2 linked regions of the Homo sapiens genome follow. The protein of the gene in region 2 interacts with the protein of the main gene of each other region in a pairwise test. Each region holds a gene or a part of one and is shown on either strand. Other genes may lie near its edges.

Region 1 (4,621 bases), on a different chromosome or scaffold from region 2:
TAAATCTTCCTGAGTGAGATGGGGAGCTATTGGGAGGATTTTGAGCAGAGGCATGGTATGCCTGATCTATTATCTTTAAAGGAAACTTCTAGTTGCTTTGTGGCAAAGTGACCACAGGTGCAAGAAGGGCAGAAGAAACCAATTTGAGGCTCCAGGCGAGGAGTAAATCTGGGCTGGCCCGAAGTGGGAGCATTGAAGGTGGTGAGATGCACACAGATGCAGGGTGTGCCATTTGTAGTATCCCTTCCCTCAGGGCTGCTGGATCCTCTTTTGGAGGAAAGCATCCCTGGGTTGCCAGGTTGCGAACTAATGTTCTCCACCTTCATCCTGTATTTACCAAAAGGGCTAACCTCAATGCATCTTTAATGGACGCAAGAGCAGGGCGTATGTGAAAGGAAGTGCAGGCACGTAAGCAGTGAAAGGTAATGGGGGGCAGGGAAGCCAGAGGGTTAATAGCACAAATGTGCCTAGAAACCATTTCTGCTTTTCTCCATTACCTCTCTGGTTTAGAAACCTCAAATTCACATACTCCTATTGGTTTTCCTTCTCTCCAAAGTCCACAGCAGTGAGGATTCCAAATAAGAAAAAGGCATCACAGGCACAGCAGTGGCCATGTCTATCTACGCACGCCTCAGTTGTGTCTTAAGTTGGCTGTTCCCCGTACTAAAATTTTCATTCAACATCATTCATTAGCACTGAAGCAAAGTCAATATGGATTGTCAGGAACCCAGTAAAGGTCTCCTTATTTTAAATTGCACCTTCGATATAGCATTATCAACATTCTACCTTTGCCTAATAAGGTGTGTGCTTACTTCAGGCTTTATACAAACATCTTCAAGTCCATCATTAAACACATACACTGGGAGGCACAATTCTAAATCTCCAGCAGTAGTTCTCAATCCAGCTTCATGTTGATCACTGCCTGTTCCAAAATTTTTTTTTTTTTTTTTTGAGACAGAGTATTGCTCTGTCACCAGGCTCTCGGCTCACTGCAACCTCCACCTCCCAGGTTCAAGTGATTCTCCTGCCACAGCCTCCTGAGTAGCTGGAACTACAGGCACGCACCACTGTGCCCAGCTAATTTTTGTATTTTTAGTAGAGATAGGATTTCACCACATTGGCCAGGATGGTCTCTATCTCTTGACCTCGTGGTCCGCCGCCTCGGCCTCCCAAAGTGCTGGGATTACAGGCATGAGCCACCACGCCCTGCCCCAAAGAGCTTTCTAGGCCCCCACCCCCAGAGAGTCCGATTCAGAAGGTCTGGGTTACATTTGGGCAATCAGTTATTTTTAATAAATCCTACAAGGTGATTGCAGTAAACTTTCAGAACTGCTGTCCTGTAGTTTCTGCAATGCCATTACCTGTTTCCTGAGTTCCCTGGACATCTCATAACCTATAAAATTTGTTAATACTAAGACGTCTCAAATGTGTTTGGGAAGGGGATATTAACATTTATTAGTAAGAATTAGCTGGAGTCCTCAGAAGCACAGGAAGGAGCTGGAGTGCAATCAACGGGTGATTAGAGGACAGAGGACACAGGACATTGGTCATGAGGGGGTGGCATGTGGACGTCGTCAGGAATTATCTATTTCCACATTTCTCAACTCTCCTTTAGGGGCATTTGAAGCCCACCCCAGACGAAGTATAACCAGCCCTTTACAGCTCAACACCCCTCCCCCACACTCCCAATCAGTTTGAGCATTTCTGGTTGACATTTACTGCATAAAAACTTATCCTTGACAGCTCTCTATATAATCTACATAGCACAAACAGAGGCCAACGAACAAATTTTTTAAAGTGAGCTCTGTACATATTCTACATGTTATAAAATGAGAAGCAGGCAAACAAATTTTTAAAAACACAGCGGTTAATAAAACATTAATTGAATCAGGACACAGCAAAGTAGCACTACAAACACTTTTTTTAATGACATCAGATGGTACATTTATACAAATTACAAGCTACAATATAGTGAATACAAAATCCATCCAGAAAACGGTTAGAAAAGCATCACTTAACAGAAGTAAATCGGATTCAAGTAGCTAAAGAACTCAAGCCCCCCATTTTGATGATTATACACGGCTTGAAATGCAGCACATCCAAATCCTCCCCCTAGTCAGGGCACTATTCAATACTACAGCATATTCAATGACTCTAGTGATGTAAAGATTCTAACACTTTTAGCATCGACGTCAAGAGACATCTCGTAACAGGTTCACTATGCAAAACTCAAATGAGAATGTGTGAACGTTCTTTGCAAACTGTAAGGTGCTGTGCAGATGTTGTTAGCTATTGCTATTATTACTGTTCAGTGAGATTACACTGAACGTGGGGAAAAGGAAGACTACTCTGTATAACTGACAAATATGACTTACAGAACATCTTAAAAGGAATGCAGATATTACTTTCAAATACACATAGCAACAACACAGGCAAGGAAAGTGTGGCCAGGAGTGATGTCGAGGAATTCCTATTTTAAGGAATATATAAAGGATTAAGCTATTCATAGATTATGTGTAATATTTATCATTAGATTCCCAAAGTCCCTGAAAATAATTTATTTTTAAGGTGACCCTTTCCCCCTGAAAAGGGAAAAAGAAATCTTGTCAGGTTACTAATGTGCTGCTTCAGCCAGCTCTTGTAAAAATTATCTTAAACATAGGAGTACAGTCTGAATTAATAGTTATACTAATCTGGTGGGTGACACAGAGTGCTTGACAGCAGAGAAACCTGCCACTGACCTCAGACAAGTGACAAATTCTGTGTCAGAGTTGAACCATAAGTTTACAACTTCACTTGGGCATAAATTAAACAATAAACATGAACTTGTCTAGAGATAAGAAATACACACTAGGTACATCTAAAATCGGATTTAAATCCTTTTTATGTACTTTCGGGTTTCATCTTTCTTTGTATATACCCTACTTGTTTAACTGATTTTAGTGGTCTCCTTGGGTATTCTAACTGTATACATAAAATTGACATGAAAATGGAAAACAAACGCCAAACAAGTCAATTGGTTGTTTCTTTTGGCAAAGCTGATGACATTTTCATGATGAAAATGTTCCAATTATTAGGCCAGGCACGGTGGCTGATACCTGTAATCCCAGCACTTTGGGAGGCGGAGGCGGGTGGATCACCTGAGGTCAGGAGTTCGAGACTAGCCTGGCTAACATGGTGAAACCCCGTCTCTACTAAAAATACAAAAATTAGCCGGGTGTGGTGGCACGCACCTGTCATCTGAGGTACTCAGGGGGCTGAGGCAGGAGAACTGCTTGAACCCGGGAGGCGGAGGTTGCAGCGAGCCGAGATTGCGCCCTTGCACTCCAGCCTGGGCAAGAAGGGCAAAACTCCGTCTCGAAAAAAAAAAAAAGAAAAAAGAAAACAAAATGTTCTAATTATTACAATGTATTTCTGTTAGATTTCCATGAAACATGGGGATTTTTAATGGCAGGTTTAAATTTTTTTTCACTAACAACCCCAAACCAAATTCTACTGTTATATGTACAATGGTATCCATTTGAAGAACTAATGACATCAGATACATTCTACAGCAGACTTTTCATTTCTCAACACAAATGAGAAAAAGGACTACATTCTCCAGGGCCAAACAGGAGGTGAGGAAGGTAATGTGTTACCGTAAATAGGGTTAAATCAGTAGTTTGGACTGACACTTCAAGTTATATCTCCTAACTGAGGTTATTCTTACAATCAGTTTTCAAACAATAGGGAACATATTTCTACCTTAAAACATGTATAAGGGCTCAACTGTAGCTTTCCTTTCTATACATCTTGAAGTATATACATTGTGTAAAAGGAAACTAGTGAGACATTTTGAAAAATAAATCTATTTGCCAAATACCATATGTTATTTAACATAGTTAAAAACAGCAGCAAACTAGTGAGTTAACAGTTAAAACTCTAGGAAAAAACTGCTTTGAAAACAAGCCTATTTTGTTATAAGCCTAAATATCAACCCTAGCATTTGATTTTAACCTTCAAACATTTGGCGCTTTTTCCAAGAGGAAATTACAACTGCCTTTGCATATGCCCCTGGTTTAAATACTTGCAGAAAAATACCCATGTATCATCACCTATTCAGCAAATGCCTGAAACCAAAACAATAATCCAACATTGGACAGTAACATTTTACAAACAGCATAAGATCCCAAAAGCACAAGAAATACCTTGGCATTATATAAAAAGAAATTAGGTGGACAATTCTAAATACAACAATACTTCTTAATTAGGGACCATCTAGAAATCTACCACATACTACCCTAGACTCAAATGTCATTATACTAAAATTGTAGTCTTTAAGCAAGAATTAAAAACAGTTCCATAATAATCATACTGATCTTTCACTTTTCTCAACAGTTAAACACAAATGCTATTTGACTTTTATGACTAATCATCCCTCTATTCCTTTAGTCCAGTTTCACAACATAAAAAATAAATGTGAACAACAAATCGGTAATGGTTTCACATACTTAAGCAAGAATCCTAGTATTAGGATTATCAGTAACAGAAAATTTGAATTTTAAGAGAATAAAGATAGAATGTGCTTATTTAGAAAATGGTCAATAAGGCCGGGCGTGGTAGCTCACGCCTGTAATCCCAG
Region 2 (9,180 bases):
ATAAACACTCATGTAAAGAGTGGAATTTGGTATTAAATGAGTTTCATGTTTGCTAACTAAACTTAATTAAAAGTCACAGCGAAGTAAGGAGGCTTCCAGCGTAAATAGATATATCAATCTTAAAATAGTGCCATATGGGCCAGGTGCGGTGGCTCATGCCTGTAATCCCAGCACTTTGAGAGACCGAGGTGGGCGAATCACAAGGTCAGGAGATTGAGACCATCCTGGCTAACATGGTGAAACCCCATCTCTACTAAAAATACAGAAAAATTCACCGGGTGTGGTGGCAGGTGCCTGTAGTCCCAGCTACTCAGGAGGCTGAGGCAGGAGAATGGCGTGAACCCGGGAGGCGAAGCTTGCAGTGAGCCAAGATTGTGCCACTGCATTCCAGCCTGGGTGACAGAGCAAGACTCCGTCTCAAAAAATAAAAAAATAGTGCCAAATGATTTTGTAAAGTCTAAGTAACCTAATATTAGAAGTGTATGCTATAAATTTGGTAAACATGTTGGACTTTACTTGAAGGACAACAGGATATCTAAGATTGCTATATTTAAGTATTTCATTGAGAAAGAGAGTGAACAAAGCAAAGAATTTGAACTTATTAAGTTTTTAGAATTTCAGAAAAGGCTATTTAAATTTCTCTACTTAAAAACAAAAATCAAAGTGGAAGTGTCTAAGAGAGAAAGATCTAATCCACCGGACAGAGAGGAACTGACACAGTTTTGAGGTTCCTGGGTAGGAAAATGAGATGTTTCTAGACTTTAGTCAGGCTGTCTCAGGGCTGTTCTCAGCTCTGCTGCAATGTCGCAGTATAAATGACTTAGTAAATTACCTAACCTCTTTAGCTTCTGTTTATTATCTTTACAAAGAAAATGTGGAACTAGGTGATTTCTAAGTTCTCTTCTAGATATAATAGTATATGATTTTAACTTTTTAAGCCCTCCTGACCACTAGATTTTTTATAAAATCTTAAATCTCAAAAAGTTCACCAAAATAAACATGTGGAAATGTCCTCAATACAAACAGAAATTAAAACTAATAATAGCCACTGAGGGACTTCCAAATTCACAGACCTGCAACAGCCAGCACAACTGTGCAGAGGAAGGCAGATGTGTTTTCAGAATCTAGGACCCTGCTCTTTTCTATGGTTTCTGTCCCCAAGCTTATCCAAAACACCTCAATACTTTTTGGGAAAGACACAGGGGTCTACTTGACACATGACCCACCCTCTCTCTCCAGCTAGCTAACTCTGCCTGCCCCAAGTCCAGTGCAGAGTTATAAGAGCAAACTTTTGGCAGCCTGAGTCACACTTCTTGCTTTTCCAAGTACCCAAGGCTCCTGCCACCTTCATTGTCTAAACCACATCTCCTAGAAAAAGACAGGAATAGCATTTCCTAGTTCCTCTTCTACCAAGGAAAGTCAGAGCAAATGAGGAGGAAGTACAAGAGAGGAAATAAAGAGGATGATAGGAGGAAAACCTTATGAGGGCAAACATTTTTTTCTGGGCAGAGAAGGTAGAAAGGGGAAGGGGAATAGGGGCTACCTGAGACACTGTAAAAATACTCATTAACCACTAAATAAAATGTCTGAATCTTCAAACAATAAAACTTTGAAAATATGTACTAGGGTAGAAACTTATTTTTTGGCCAAGGTCTAAGTTGGTATTTCTACTTATGCCGTTTATGTGGTTTGTCGGTATTGATTAAAACCAATGCATCTACCTTTAAAAAAAAAAAGCTTCTTTAAGTTAAGAAAAACAAAAGACAAAATAGCACCTGAAGCTACCACATGTACTTATTAGCAATTCTTAACAAAGAAAGAGAGGAAAAAACTCCTCTGAAAATGTACCTGTTCCATTTTTGGATTAACTACACAAAAGTAATTAAGTAACCAAATTTAAGAAAAACAAGTAAAGTTTTCAAATTTGCAAAGTTTCTAAGTGATAGTGAAAAATACACAATGAAATGAAAGGCTATACCCCACTTTATAATTGCACAGCTGCTACACCGATGTTTCAACAATATGGTTGACATTCTTCTTCTGACTAAGTGGGCATATCATAATTTGACAACAGTGAAGTTGTAAGGGGCTGTTTAACCTTTGGTTTGTTGGAAGCCACTTTGTTATTATGCATTTCATTACAGAGTAAAGGATACAGCACTGGCATGATTTATACCAACAAAGACTGCTACACACCGCATTACACTGGACCACTCTCTTTTAAATTTATGTGGTTCTCCTAGATGTCTGTCAATGCAGGGGTATAATAACCCAATCACAGCTGTAGGGAAAAAAGAAAAAAATTAAGTTACCTCCAATGTTGTACTGGCAACACTTAAGCTAAAAGAATCACTACAACCACCACAAGCATTTTAAAGATTCTTAAAAAAAAAAAAACAAAAAAAAAAGTTATTTCACATCAATCACCGATATTTTTTAACTTACCTTCCAAAGGAAATGAAATGAGGATAACACCAATGAAGAAAGTATTGCAAATGATTACAACAACATTCTAAATTATAATCAACAAAATACTCTTCAAATGTATGATTCACAATTTAGCAGACTGGACTAAATGATTCGTGCTACTAAATGATTCATGCTACTTTTCTACTACTGATACCTACGAGACCTGAAAAAAGTATCAAACCAGTTAGCAGTTAAGTAATGTTCTCTCTAAACTCCAAACCATAAAATATTTATTATATGCCACAAATCTAAGAGAATCTAGAAGTATAAAAGTATACAACAAGCTCATCATACACACAATGTTCTGAAGGTTCTGGCTGGCCTCTTACGTAGATCAGTCTCGCCCCTACCAGCTTCCCGTTTTAGTCTTCAGCATGTAGCACCTTTTACTGACACTCCTTTCCACTCTAGCCCTTTAATGAGGCTGTAGGTCATATTGTCAAAGCAGGAAAACTCACAACAGAAATCTACAGGTAAGACTCATTCTGCACATAGAAACAATGGAGGAAACAAGGTGTAGAGGTATTTAAAATTTTCAGTTAAATTTTAAGTGCACTGTTAGAAGAAGAAATCATCTTAGTACTTCTCTTAGTTTTGGAAAGAACACTTTGAATGTTGTGTCATTAATTATACATAACTGTATATAAAATGTCAATGATTGAGTCCCAAAATATTCTCATCCCTTTCTTATTTCTCAAACCTCAACATTTTATTCATTTAGTGGGAAGGAATTTTAAGTGCTAAATTAGTTATTAAAAAGACTATTTAATGAAAATATTCTAATCTTCCTAAAAACAGGATGATTATGTTGTGCCATTCTGGCAATAAAGACACTACTGTCACATCAGTTGAAAAGCATGTTTAAAATAACCAATACCACTTAAGAGGAATCATGAAATTACAACGCCAAAATCTAAGTGCCTGAGGGACAAGAGGCCCTCCCCCTACCCAGTATTAGCCAGCTGTATCTCACAGGCAATGCATTCACTCTTCGAAGAAAAACAGAAACCAATTAGTATCAAAAATCACAGCCTAGCAGACCAATGGTGCAGCATTTGAAAAAGGCTGTGTGACCACCCTTCTATCTCGAGATGAGATGCTGCAATACTGTATGCATTTTCTAGTCCACAACTCTTTTGAGTTAGGCATGTGCTGAGTATAGATGGCTCACAGAACATCAAGAGATTAAGAACATATCTCGGCAATGCAGAGCTCCAATAACTATTAGTAAATCTAGAAGTTTCACACTATATTCCTATTTAAAAATCTGCTCCAAAATCCTGACAAGATTAACTGACAGGATTTTAAAATTTCTATACAAATAAAATGGCAACAAGCATCCCTAACAGTTGAAATGTAGTTAAACGAATATCACCTCTTTTTTTCTCAAGGGGTCATAAAACTAACAGCTCATTTGTCACCCCCATCCCCCCACCATATATATCCTCCCTTTGCCTGTTGCTGAGTAAAGTCAACTAAGAGCAGACATTCCAAGTCAATTTTCCTGAGCAACTGATGCCTAGGTAAAGAATTATTACATAGAGAATACTGACATGTATGTGCAAAGGTATAAATAAGTAAAATCGACTATATTTTTATGCATGTGATGTCAGACTTGCAAGTGAGAGACAACTGAGGAGAGAAAGCAAAAACACAAAAAGAAATTTAAACTGCCACACTGCCAACCCTGGGATTTGCCAATAAAAATCAAATCCATTGAGTATGCATGGTTCTCAGTTGCTCACTGAGAGGGAGAATTCGAAGAAGCTTGTCACTTCCCATTAAATGTCTTCTTTCTTTCCTTTAAATAAAGGCATGGCAGAGTCTGATAGCAATATATACAACACTGTGAGGTTCCACTGTTTGAGAGCTCAACAGAGTATGTCTGGGCCTCTTTTCCTCTTCTTGTACTTTTTTTTAAAAAAAACAAGAAAGACTGTTAAAATCATGCCTGTGTAAAATCATATGCAAACACAATCCTGCTTATAAATCAAATGGTTCTCTGATGCAAAAATCACATTTCTTGTGATACCTTTAAGTTATTTCCCAGTGACTAGTTACAGTCTACCAAAGCTAAACACTAAAGAAGTTTGTAAAATATCAGTAGTAAGTCATCACTTTTTTATGGGAATGTGCTTAAATGCAGGGAGGCACTAAAAGGAACACAGTTAAAGTCAGACATTTTGTAAGAAAACAGGAACTGAATAAACGAAAACACTCCATGAGGTATACTTCGACGCAAAACTATAAGATAATATTTTCCTTCAACAAATACTTAAGCCCTGACAATATGTCTGGTTCTTGGTATTTGCTGGAGATTTAAAAAGGTAAGGCCAGGCGTGGTGGCTCACACCTGTAATCCCAGCACTTTGAGAGGCCGAGGCAGGCGAATCGCGAGGTCAGGAGTTTGAGACCAGCCCGGCCAACATGGTGAAAACCTGTCTCCACTAAAAATACAAAAAAATAGCTGGACGTAGTGGTGGGCGCCTGTAATCCCAGCTACTCGGAAGGCTGAGGCAGGAGAATCGCTTGAAGCTGGGAGGTGGAGGTTGCAGTAAGCCGAGATGGCGCCACTGCACTCCAGCCCAGGTGACGGAGTGAGACTCCGTCTCAAAAAAAAAAAAAAAAAAAAAAAGGCAAAAGAGTAAGATACGATTCCAATTGCAAAGTGACCACAGAAACAATTAAATACAATCCTGCATTAAGGGCAGCTGACAGGACAGAGGGGTCCCAGGCTTCTCCTTGCCTGTGCTAGGGGAAGGCAAGGTGCTGGGCTGTCAGAAAAGCTTCACGGAAAGAGGTGACCCTTGAGGCAGGAGCATTCAGCAGTAAATGGCGCAGAAATAGTGCTCTCATTAAAGGGAGGTGGCTGAGGACATTCATGGAAAACTGGAAACTGCTGGTGTTAAGAGGAAGCTGTAAGCTTCAGACACAAAGGGAGCTGCAGGGTCCAGAAAGACTCTGAAGAAGAAAAAAGCAGTCAAGGGCCATATTATAAAGACTTTACCCTGCAGACAATGGGCAATCAGGAAAACAATGTCATCACTGTTGTACCAGAGAGAGGCCATCTTCTTAGCAGTGAGGGTACCATACAAGGGGGCTGAGAAAAGGGTGGGTGCAAAACTAGAGGCCGGCAAAGACTAAAGACTCCAAGCACAGCCATTGAGGGATGGACCAAGAAAGAGACAGAGGAAAGATGTAAGACTTGGAAACTGGATGTAGAACGGGAGAGAAAGCAAGGAATCTTACAAGGCTCTACAGGAATAGGGCAAGGGACTGCACAGCTAAACAGGAAAGATTTTTCTTTTCTTTTTACATTAGATATTATTTTCATACGTTTGGACACAACCAGGCTACTTGTGATTTTTGAGGCAACTTCTCTACTTATTTTATCCACACGAGTTGTCTTTTTCTATTTATTCTTTAGAAAGATTTCTTTGTGGCCCTCAATAATGCTGAAAAGATTTCTAATTCCAATTCTGGTGCATGGCACACATAAGGAAGTTAACTTGTAACATCAGCATTATCAAACTAAAAATATGGAATTAAGAAAAAAAAGTCATCAAAATTAGTTTACCAAAGTTCTCTATTAGTTGTCCCACCAGAACCACCACTAGCAAATTTTCCAGGATTGTGCTATAGAGAAAGGTGGCAAATAACAAGGAGCACTTTCTACACACAGAAGGTGGTGATTCTGGAGCCCCTCCAAAAGGTGGCTGCTCTATCTATGAATGTTAGTTGAACAGGAAAATCAAAGGATGATTATCAGTTTTTCTGACTTAAGATGGTAAGACCCTAGCGAGGTCTTGAAAATCCACGCCAACACATATACACAAAAACATATGCATATTACATACACACACAAACTCAAACACACTATGTTTCTTAAATCATTTACTTCTTTTCCCATGATACTTTCCCTAAAATAATGATGCAGGGGATGGCAGAGCAGAGATTTTGAGAGAATCCATTTTCCATCTCTGGCAACTTGGACAAATCTGATATCTTTCACTCTCATCTACTAAACACCATGACTTAACTAACAAAATTGGTAGCAGAATTGGCTGGAATCTAGATTTCCTAATGTCTCTCTACTTTCTTTTGCCCAAGTACCTTATGGTACAAACTGCTTTCAGAAGAAATACTTAAGCAAGAAATGTAAATGCAAATTCCCCAAATGAGGTTAAGTTTGTAAGTGTGACAAACCTAGTGGCTGGGAACAGGAAGGAAAGTAGTGGCTGAACTGTGGTATTAGCATTTGAAATTTTCCTTCCTAAAATGTAAGTTTATGGCAAAAGTGCTGACATTAAAGGGGCAGAAGGACAAGACAGCAGGTGCAGCCCTGTTACTCTTCATAGTGGAGGTACAATGAAACCTCAGTTAAGTTCTCCTGCCCCAGCCCAAATGCACAACACACGCCAGGGAATTCCATCTAGGTCTGGCACCCAGTCTGGAGGCTTGAAAAGTGGCATCCTGAGTAGGGGGAAAAGTGTGAGTAGCTTCCTTTTCCCTTCCCCAGCATGTGACATGTGGACCCAGTCACACCACTCACTGGCTCTGGGACCCTGGGCTCACTGGTTTTCTTTCTTCATCTCAGTGAGTGTCCTCATCTCCCCATAACAGGCACAATGCCAAACATCTCTCTCCCAAAGTTGCTCTACAGAACCCTGGGATTACAGGATGTACCTAGCACATTAGCAGACATTCAATAAACAACAGTTTCCCTTCCCTCTGTTCTATCCTGAAAAGACATGTATGCTCTTCCATGTCCCAAAAAGCTTCTACTGGCAGCCAGACTATACTATAGAAGAAAAGAAACAAAGAACTAGAAAAGTTGTTGAGAAAACGTTTTCTCTTCTGAATTTAAATGAAAGAAAAATGCATGAGGACCAGTACATACAGCAGAGTGATACAATTTAATTTGTTTTTTATTTGGACTATTTTTTGCCTTTTCTCTTGGAGAATGATAACCCTGGGAAACTAAGAATCACTGCCTTCATGACTTCACTTTTAATGTGAACGATGTAATAGTGAGACATCAGTATATAAACACTGAAGCCTTACTACAACAGTGCCCCTCTAACTGTGCAACAGGATTCTATAATTGTCCAGCAAGTTTCACAAGGCCATTCTAACACTTCCGTAAAGCGCAACCTCATCCTTCAACCTCCCGCTCTTGGATGGAAGCCAAGAAGGACATATATTATGTTGCAAGATATTCATTCATATATGTTAAGTATGAGACACCAAATGGGTATTTAAAAAGCAATTTTCTCCTTCAATCAGAATTATCTTCTACCACATGATTATGGTTTCCTTTTATTACTTTATTATTAAAAACAGTATTAATCTATTGGTCTTGGTCATTAGAAAACACTAAAGTGCTATCCATTGTGGAAGTATGGCAGCAATAAAGTATTGTGAAATGCTCTACTCTATGCATTACACACTGCCCACCACCAAAAAAATATCTAAAGTAACTAATAGGATACTAATTTTAAGCAAAGAGAGTCTACCTTATAGATGTCTTTAAATATTTATTATTCTAAGGTACTTATAAAAACAAGATACCAAGGAAAAAAGCATTTACAAAAATACAACATGAAGCTTTAAACTTTAATTATTCAAGTTTTTATTACTTCAGAAACAAGACTACAGCACATGCATCAAACCCTTAAAACCAAATGGTGGTGCTCATCATCCAAATAACTTAAAATAACACTTAGATGAGATGGGTTGAAGAAAGAACAAAATTAAGGGGTTAAATGCTTCATCCCTAAGGGAAACAGGATTGTTTTTCAGAATTAAATGTTAAAAGTTTACAGGACAGATAGAATGAGACAGAAGGGAGTACATACGTTATGAGCCCATTTATATTGCATTCTAGAACAGAGATAAATAATTTATGGCAACAGAAAGCAGATCAGTGGTAGCCTGAGGCTGGGGGTGGGGAATGGACTGCAAGAGGACACGAGAGACTCTGGAGGGTGATGGAAATGTTCCACAGCTGGATTGGCAGTGGTCATGTGACTGTACGCATTTGCCTAAACACATCAAGTTGTTCAATTCAAACGGGTCCAGTGTATTATACCTAAATTATATCTCAATAAATATATTTTCTTTTTTAAAAAGGTTTATTGCTCAGACAACGTCCATACTCATTTACCCTATTTCCTTTCTAAGCATTACAGAAACATCCTACACATACCTGAAGCCGTGCCACAGCATGGGGGTACCCACCATGCAGAAGAAAAGATGCTTGCAATCACATCAGGTGGAAAGAGCGTCACATTTCTCTGAATCTGAAGTAAATTTAACACTAATGCAAGAAATACTCCAATAAAAAATAGCACTACTCCTCGAATCATCAAGTTCACACTCTGGCTAGTGACAGATGAAATATATGGGCCACACTTTTTGGGCCCAGGTGACTCTGTCTCTCCTTCTGCCATGGTTTCATAGGTTCAGAAAGCCGTTAAAAAAAAAAAAATGGAAAGGCTTCCCAGCTGAAAAGCTCAACTGTCTGTGAATCAAAGACTGACGCTTCAACGGTACCACATCTTGTCCTAAAGTAGGACCTACCAGAAATCCTGCAAGAGATAAGAAAAAAGAAATTAATGTGTATCTAATACATGATTATTGTAATTTTACTGATTTCAATACTAGTTAATTTAAATGGACAAATAAGAAAATGACAAGCTTGTATACTAA

Evidence for each region. The genes of interacting proteins can lie anywhere in the genome.
Region 1: the proteins of INSIG2 (region 2) and VMA21 interact in binary tests that used the Homo sapiens proteins (3 or more experiments, as listed by UniProt).

The regions. Positions count from the first base shown.
Region 1 is NC_000023.11:151,406,647-151,411,267, reverse strand, and holds the end of VMA21 (vacuolar ATPase assembly integral membrane protein VMA21), read right to left. Parts: 3' UTR 1,904-4,621; downstream 1-1,903. UniProt on the Homo sapiens protein: Required for the assembly of the V0 complex of the vacuolar ATPase (V-ATPase) in the endoplasmic reticulum.
Region 2 is NC_000002.12:118,096,298-118,105,477, reverse strand, and holds part of INSIG2 (insulin-induced gene 2 protein), read right to left. Parts: intron 9,060-9,180; 5' UTR 8,922-9,059; coding exon 8,678-8,921; intron 2,282-8,677; coding exon 2,157-2,281; intron 1-2,156. UniProt on the Homo sapiens protein: Oxysterol-binding protein that mediates feedback control of cholesterol synthesis by controlling both endoplasmic reticulum to Golgi transport of SCAP and degradation of HMGCR.